2 separate regions of the Homo sapiens genome follow, and region 1 is linked to region 2. Evidence: fine-mapped expression QTL. A gene starts in region 2. The other region holds a variant in brackets. All regions are shown on one strand. Distances are from middle to middle.

Region 1 (4,399 bases), 24 kb after region 2:
ATTTTTCGTAGAGACGGGGTTTCGCTATGTTGGCTAGACTGGTCTTGAGCTCCTGACCTCGTGATCTGCCCGCCCTGGCCTCCCAAAGTGCTGGGATTACAGGCATGAGCCACCGCGCCTGGCAACAGTGAATATCTTAATTTTAGTATTTTTGCTGGGAAGGCTGAGAATTTCCCAAATCATTAAGTCCTGTTTTTTTGTTTGTTTGTTTGTTTTATTTAAGAGACAGGGTTTCACTGTGCCACCCAGGCTGGAGTGTAGTAGTGGTGTGATCATAGCTCGTTGTAACCTTGAACTCCTGGACTCAAGTGATCTTCCTGACTCAGCCTCCTGAGTAGCTGGGACTACAGGTGCATGCCACCACACCTGGCTAGTTTTTAATTTTTTGTAAAGACGGTCTCAATATATTACCCAGGCTGGTCTTGAACCCCTGAGCTCAAGCGATCCTCTCACCTTTTTCTCCCAAAGTGTTGGGGTTACAGCTGTAAGCCACCGTGCTCAGCTTGCTTTTTATTTAACAGCTCTTCCCTCAGTCTGTTTCTTTCCTTTCACATTTTACTATAAAGAGCAAAAAGAAATCAGGTTGCCACTTCAGTAGATTCTGCTTTCCACATTATCGTGGGACATAATTCTGCTAAACTTTCTGCCCTATGTAACAAGGATCCCCTTTCCACAAGTTTTTAATAACATGTTCCTAATTTCCTCCTGAGCCTTTACTAGCTGAATTAACATTCATATTTTCCTTTTTGAAATACAATTTGTATACCATACGGTTCACACATTGAAAGCATACAGTTTAGTGGCTTTTGTTAAATGCAGAGTTGTTCAGCCATCACCACAATTTTAGAATATTTTCTTTTTCTTTCTTTTTTTTTTTTTTGAGATGGAGTCTCGCTCTGTTGCCCAGGCTGGAGTACAGTGGCATGATCTCGGTTTACTGCAACCTCTGCCTTCTGTGTTCAAGTGATCTCCTGCCTCAGCCTCCCAAGTAGCTGGGATTACAGATGTGCATCACCATGCCTGACTAATTTTTGTGTTTTTAGTAGAGACAGGGGTTTCACTGTGTTGGCCAGGCTGGTCTTGAACTCCTGACCTCAGGTGATCTGCCTGCCTTGGCCTCCCAAAGTGCTGGGATTATAGGCATGAGCCACCATGCCCAGCCAATTTTAGAATGTTTTCATCACTCCAGAAAGAAACACTACATTTCTTAGCCATCACCACCAATCGTTTGTCCCTCCCAGCTCTAGACAATCAGTTATTTACTTTCCATCTTATAAACTTACCTATTCCGAACATTTCATTTAAATGTAGTGATAAAATATGTGGTCCTTTGTGACTGGCTTCTTTTACTTACCATAATGTTTTCAGCGTTCATCCATGTTTTAGCATATATCAGTGCTTCCTTCCTTTTTATGGCCGAATAATATTTCATTGTATGTACATACAGTGTTTTATTTACCCATTTATAAATTGATGGACGTTTGAGCTGTTTCCACTTTTTGGCTATTAGAAATAATGCTGCTATGACCATTTATTTGTGTACAAGTTTTTGTGTGCACATATGTTTCATTTCTCTTGGGTATATACCTAGGAGTAGAATTATTGCATCATATGGTAACTCTATGTTTAACTTTTTTTTTTTTTTTTTTTTTAAAGACGGAGTCTCGCTCTGTTGCCAGGCTGGAGTGCAGTGGCGCAGTCTCAGCTCATTGCAACCTTCACCTCCCAGGTTCAAGCGATATTCCTGCCTCAGCCCCCAAGTAGCTGGGACTACAGGCATGCGCCACCGCGCCCAACTAATTTTTCTATTTTTAATAGAGACGGGGTTTCACCATGTCGGTCAGGATGGTCTTGATCTCTTGACCTCATGATCCACCTGCCTCAGCGTCCCAAAGTGCTGGGATTACAGGCATGAGCCACGGCATCCGGCCTATGTTTAACATTTTGAGGAACTACCAGACTGTTTTCCAAAGTGACTGTACCATTTTACATTCACACTAGCAGTGTATAAGGGTTCTAGTTTCTCCACATCCTCACCAGCACAACATCCATATTTCTACTAAAATCTGTTCAAGGCAATCTGGGCTTTTTAAAAATCATGGTCCTAAAAATTCTTTTAGTCCCTTCCCACTGCCCAATTTCAAAGGCACTTCCACATTTTTGGGTATTCGTTACAGCTGCACTCCTCTTCTAGTTACCACAATCTATACTAATTTTCTATTTGCTGCCATAACAAATTACTGCAAACGTTGTGACTTAAAACAACACAAATTTATTACCTTATAGTTCTGTGGGTCAGAAGTTTGACAAGATCTCCCTGGGCTAAAATCAAGGTGTTGGCAGGGCTCTGTTTCCTTCTGGAGGCCCTAGGGAAGAATCCATGTCCTTGCCTTTCCTAGCTTCTAGAGGCTATCTGAATTCCTTGGCTTCTGCCCTCCTTCCTCCATCTTCAGAACCAGCAATGCTACATTGAGTTCTTCAGTCACATCATGCTGACCCTGCTTCCGTCATCTCATTTCTTCTTTGACTCCTTTCTTCTGTGAGCCTCTTCTGCTTTTCTTTTT[T/C]CTCATTTCTCTCTTCTGCTGTTAAGGACCTTTATGATTACACTGGGCCCGTCCTAATAATCTAGGATAGTCTATGTTGTTTTGTTTTTGAGACAGGGTCTCGCTGTGTTGCCCAGGCTGAAATGGCACAAGTTTTCTACAAGTTTTTAATAAAACTTGTGGGGCATGATCATGGCTTACTGCAGCCTTGACTTCCCAGGCTTAAGTGATCCTCCCAGGTCAGCCTCCCAAGTACCTGGGACTATAGGCATGTACCACCATGGCTGACTAATTTTTAAATATTTTCTAGAAATGGAGTTTGGCCATGTTGCTCAAGCTGGCTTTGAGCTCCTGGGCTCAAGCTGTCCTCCCACTTCGGCCTCCCAAAGTTCTGGGATTACGGCTCACTCCCTCTTTATCTTAAGGTTGTCTTATTAGCAACCTTAATTTCATCTGCAACCTTAATTCCCCTTTGCCGTAAAAGGTAACATATTCATAGGTTCTAGAGATTAGAACATGAACATCTTTAAGGAGACTATTATTCTGCCTACTACAACTTCTTAATACTTGGCTGTGCATTTCCTCAATTGCAAGACAGTCTCCAAAGTACAACCATCACAATGTTACTATCTAAACCGTAGGTCCCATTCAAATTTTGCCACTTGTCCCATTAATGTCCTTTATAGGCCTAAGATTGAACCTAGAATTATATATTACATTTAGTTGTCATGTCTCTTTTTCCTGCAGTATGGGAGAGATTTTTAGTCTTTCCTTATTTGTTATGACCTTGACGTTTTTAGAATGTTCCTTAATTTGGGTTTGTTTGGTGTTTTATGATTTATGCATTTTTGGCAGGAATACCCCTGCGGTAATGCTATACTTCTGTCAGTACATTGTATCAGGAGGCATGTGCTAATGATTTATCCCATTACTGGTGATGTTAACTTTTGTCACTGTTTAAGATGTGTCTGCTAGATTTCTCTACTGTAAAGTTACTGAATAAGGATGTTGTATTAATTAATACATATTTTGGCGGGAGATACTTTGAAACTCTAAATATTCTTTCTCATCAGATATTTACTCACCAGTATCTGTTGGAGGTACTTGCCTAAATCATTTATTACTGTGATAGTTGCCAAATGTAATGTTGCTAATTTTATATATTATAATAATATTTTCTAGATTTGTTTGTTTTGATAGGGTAAAGCTTGCTTTTTTTATCAGTATGGACTCAAGGATAATATGGATCAAGCATTAATTTCCCCAAAGGATTATACTTTGTTATTATTTATTTTGGTGTTCAAATTGTCTCAGACCTGGCCAATAGGAGTTCTTCAAAATGACTCCTGTGAAATCAGTATCTGGGTGCTAGATGTGCTCATTGCTACTAGGATGTCATTGCTTCTAGGCCCGGTCTGTGGATAGAGGTAGCATATATATGTATGCAATCTCTGTCACATACATACGTGTGTGTATATAAGTATATACATACATCATACATACATATATACATATATACATACATCTCTGTTTATCTCATCTTCAGAAGTGGCATTGATAACAGTTTTTGCTGATGTCTTTGAAGATAAGTCCCTGTAAATCTGCTTTTTGTTTTTTTAGGCTAACCCAGCAAAGCATCTTGAGCTCTGCTACTCTCTTGGGTTTCTGCCAGTGAGGCTGGCCATTTTTTAACCACCTCCACAAATACCATAACCCTTCAGTTTTTTTCCAAGCCAGATTCCAGGAATAATCCTGTTTGTAGAAACTGGACATGCCACTAAAACAGAAGGAGGCTAATAAGTGATCTTATTTCTTGCTTCTCAATCGTGAAACTTTCTTTTTTAAGAGATAAAAGT
Region 2 (4,382 bases):
AGATGAAATCAGCAGTAACAGAATTCTCTTGAGGACTTCCAGAGATTGGGTTCTGTCTTTAAGTCTCACTTCTCCTTTGGGTCAGTATCTAACTTTTAAGCTATCCTTTAGATGCAGTGTTCTAAATTTTTAAAATTTATTATAAATTATACAGGTAATACATATTGTACTCTTCTTATAAACTATTCAAGCAATAGAAATAAAACAAAAGTCTCCTTTGACACTTAGCCCAACAAATTCCTTTCCTGTATTCCCTTCCAAGATGTAACAAGTTATCCATTTAATATGAATCAAACTCAGTATAAACTCAATAAACTCAAGATATACACATACTTACAACAAATAGTTTTGTGGAGTTTTTTTTTCCACATACATATTGCATTGTATTCTAGTGTCTTTTTGCTTAAGAACTTACGTATCTGGAGGAGCTTTCCCTGTTGATTCATAGATATCAATCTTATTTTAACAGCTGCATTGGATTTCACAATACAGCAAACTCAGATTTCTTGCAGAAAAAAATGAAGATAACTAGAAAATATAAGTCTTCTTCCCTGGCACAACTGTCCTCATTGCTGAATCCCTGGTTGCCATACAGCTTGCTCTTGACTGGAGAGTCAGGAAGGGAAGGGCCTCATACCCCTCTCAGCTGGGTGCAGAGCAACACCCCAAGCCTACAGCTCAGATGACCCTACATGTGAGCCCTCTATGGTTCAACTGTCCTCACCTTCCTCTTGGCCACTGTGGCCCAGTGCCATCCCCAAGACTTACCCACACAAGGAAGGTCATTCCAGAGAGACTATGTGTGTGGGCTGGCCCCAGGGAGGGGCAACTGTAGACCTTTTTGTTCTACAGGAGGGGGAGGTGGCAACCAAACAAAGTTCCATTGTCTGACCAACGCTGGGGGGCTCATGCCACCCCTACTCCCACCCCAACTGTCCTGAATCTCTCACCTCAGCATGCAATACCATGTACTTACCTTCTGGAACTTCCACCTTAGAACCTTCTTGGGAATCCCCCTTGTTTAACAAGGGAGATAATTCACTGGCTCTAACTTCTATTCCTCCTGTTACAATATCAACCATTGCCCTTCTCAGCTGTGCTCAATGGTTCTATGAGTGGAACAAGTGTTGAGACACAACTCTCCCTCTTCCTTATACATCAAGATTCCTTCCCCCTATTTCCCTCACTATGCCCTTCTCCAACTCTCTATCTTTAACATTTTCTCAGGGTACCCCCAAATAGCCCAGTACAACCCAGAAGAGTCTAGGGCTCAAGCAGCTGACAGCAGAGAACCCTGGGCATTCTGGCCAGCCCCCTTTCCCTTGATGTCCTCCCCACCACCCCCACTTGCCTATGGCTCACTCATTGCACTAGGATTCAGGGCAGTTCAGAGAAGGGAAGGGGCCATTCCAATAATCCTGCTTTGACCTCTTACTCACCCAACATCTGCCAGGGGGCAAGGAAAGGGCTGGTCAGCTTATGAAGGAAGACAGCTTTAGAGGGATAAGATCCCAGAATCTCATAGAACCTCACTCCATTCACCCACACAACAGGTGAGGAGCCATAGAGAGACAAAAAATCTGAGGAGCTGAGACCACAAACCTGGGCTCCTTACTTAGATCGCACTCTCTTTTTCCTTCTGGGAAACTAAGGTTAAGGCACCTCCTGCACTGCTAGGGGACGAGTGGGAACCAAACCCAGGTGTTTGAGCCTATTTCTTTATGTAATCTAACACTGCTTCCCACCAGGCTGTTAGCATGGCTCTGGGGGCATGCTACTATTTCCAACCTGGGTCCAGCCATGGCCACCACTCAGGGAAGCTTGCTACACTCTCTTTTACCCTTTCTTTTAAAATAAAACCTCTACTTCCTCCCTCTAAATGCATATTTTTTTCTTTTCATATATATATATATATATTTTTTTTTTTTTTGAATTTTACAGATGGAGTCTGGTTATGTTGTCCAGGCTGGTCTCCAACTCCTGGGGCTCAAATAATTATCCCACCTTGGCCTCCCAAAGTGCTGGGATTACAGGCATGAGCCACCATGCCCAGCCGCATATTTTTTCTTTCTGAATATAATGTCACCTTCCTGCTCCTGCTTGTTCTTTCTTTGGTTGCAGTGGGGAGTGCAGCAAAGGCTGTGGGGATTGCTGAGAGACACCTGAGTCCCAAGACTCCCAGAGTAGAGTGGCTCCACTTACCCAAAGAAGAGAAGAGCAGCACAGCCAGGATAGGGCTGGGGCTGGATGAGGGAGCCCCAGGAGCCATAGCTGGGGCAGGGGCAGGGGCCCGGAGCATCTGTGGGGTTGAGAAAGTGGGGGACCAGGAACTGAACGGGGGGTTCCTGGAACCTGCTTAAAATCCCCTAGGGCCCCAGCATGAGGGGGCTGTCCTCAGCCAGTAACCAATTGCAGCCTGGCATGTGCAGTTGAGAGGTGGTGGGGAGGGGGGCAGAGTGCAGGGAGCAGAAGGGGCATTGTATAGTCTGGGTGGAGGGGTGGGGGGACACATACCACCCCATACACAGAGGGCTTTGTGTCCACTGGCCTCCCCCTGCCCCAGGCTGGAATGTTGTGGGGGGTGGTGAGGGAGAGGGACAAAAACAGGGACACAGACACACTTCTCTGAGGGATAGATATGGAACCTCAATTTAAAGGCCATAAAAAGGGATTTCTCCTCAGCCTCCTTGCCTGAGAGAGGCTGCCTCACAGCCCTAGGAACTAGAGGGAGGTTTCCCCCAGAGAACTCTGAAAATAGGATATCCCCTGTTATCTCCTCTAATGTGGGCTGCATTACAGACTTCTTGAGATGACCAAGTCCTATGGGAGTTTTTTTCCCCGCACCTCCCTTCATCCTGTGCGATTCTTCCCAGACAGAAGTTTTTCTCCACTGGACTATTTCCAGGCAAGAAGCCCCTGACCTTTCCGTTTGTCAAGAAGTCCTTCAGTGCTTCATGCTGCTGTTTAAGTCCATTTCAATTTATTTCAAGGCTACAAAATTGTATTAAGTGCCAGCAATATGTAAAGTATGAGAATGCAGGTAATAGAGAGAGGAATAAAAATTAAGTCCTTCCAGCAAGGAGTTGAAAATTTGGTTTGGGGAGGTGGAGATGGGAAGATCAGAGGACAAACCCATCAACAATCAAGTATAATAAGCCATGACACTTCCTTTAGTAATGAACAAAATGCTGGGAGTACAAAAGAGGGGCACACACAGCTGCAATATCAGGAAGACTAAGTTATATGAGAGATTAAAGACAAAATAAACTTTAATAAATGAAGTTTATGCCAGGCATAGTGGCTGACACCTGTAATCTCAGCACTTTGGTAGGCTTATGCAGGAGGATTGCTTGAGTTTAGGAGTTTGAGACCTGTCTGGGCAACATAGCAAGACCTCGCCTCTACCAAAATTTTTTAAAAAATCAGCTGGGCATGTTATCACATGCTTGTAGTCCCAGCTACTTGGGAGGCTGAGGCAGGAAGATCGCTTGAACCTGGGAAATCAAGGCTGCAGCGAGCTATGATTGTGCCACTGCTTTCCACCCTGGGCTACAGAATGAAACTCTGTCTCAAAAATAAATAAATAAATAAATAATCAAACAAATAAATAGTTCAGAGGGAAGAATAGTTGTGTCTAGGAGGCAATGTTAGATATGAATCAGCCTTGAAGGATGACTGTCATTTTGGAAAGGGAGATAGGGAGGGTTACCAGAAGATAGAACAGCAAAAGCAAGGACAAAGAGGTGAGACGGAGAGACAGAATGTGTGTGTGTGTGTGTGTGTGTGTGTGTGTGTGTGTGTGTGTGTGTGTGTGTATGTATATGAGATGTAGGTTTCTGAAGTGTTGGATATATTCAGGGCCGATCTTGTGCCATCCACTTTGACTTGATTTGGGGAAACTTGAAGTGGCATAGTCAGAAATGAGACTGGACAGGAAAGTCGAAACCAGTTTGTGAAAGGCCTTAAATGACAGGTGAAAGAAGGTGAATTCAATTTGGTACATCATGAGAACCTGAAGGTGTTGGGGTGGAGTTAGCCATGGGGATGTCTACATAACCAGAGCTGAGGTTTTTTTGTTTGTTGAGGCAGTCTCGCTCTGTTGCCCAGGCTGGAATGCAGTGGCATGATCATGGCTCACTGCAGCCTTGACCTCTGAGGCTCAAGCAATTGTCCTACCTCAGCTTTCCAAGTAGCTGGGAACTACAGGCGCATGCCAGCATGCTGGGCTAGTTTAAAATTTTTTTTTTTTTTTTTTCAGAGATAAGGTCTTGCTCTGTGGCCCAGGCTGTAGTGCAGTGGTGCAATGATAGCTCACTGCAGCCTCAACCTCCCAGGCTCAAGCGATCCTCCCACTTCAGCCTCCAGATTAGCTGAGCCACAGG

Direction of the effects. Positions count from the first base shown, and alleles are read on the strand shown. Sizes are in standard deviations (SD) of each study's normalised expression.
For the expression in whole blood of the gene that starts at base 2,332 in region 2, C is the low allele of the variant in region 1 and T is the other (moderate effect, 0.61 SD a copy in GTEx).

The links. PIP is the estimated chance that this variant, and not a neighbour inherited with it, causes the effect.
Region 1: its variant is the best candidate, but not a certain one, in a credible set for the expression of MPZ in whole blood (GTEx, PIP 0.52).

The regions. Positions count from the first base shown.
Region 1 is chr1:161,331,771-161,336,169 of GRCh38, forward strand. All of the region lies in intron 3 of SDHC (succinate dehydrogenase complex subunit C), which reads left to right. Among named protein-coding and RNA genes, the nearest start is that of SDHC, 20 kb to the left of the region's middle. The variant T/C (reference allele first, on the strand shown) is at 2,565.
Region 2 is chr1:161,307,637-161,312,018 of GRCh38, forward strand. MPZ (myelin protein zero) reads right to left here and starts at 2,332. Exons shown (of 6, transcript NM_000530.8): 1 at 2,203-2,332. The coding sequence starts at 2,269.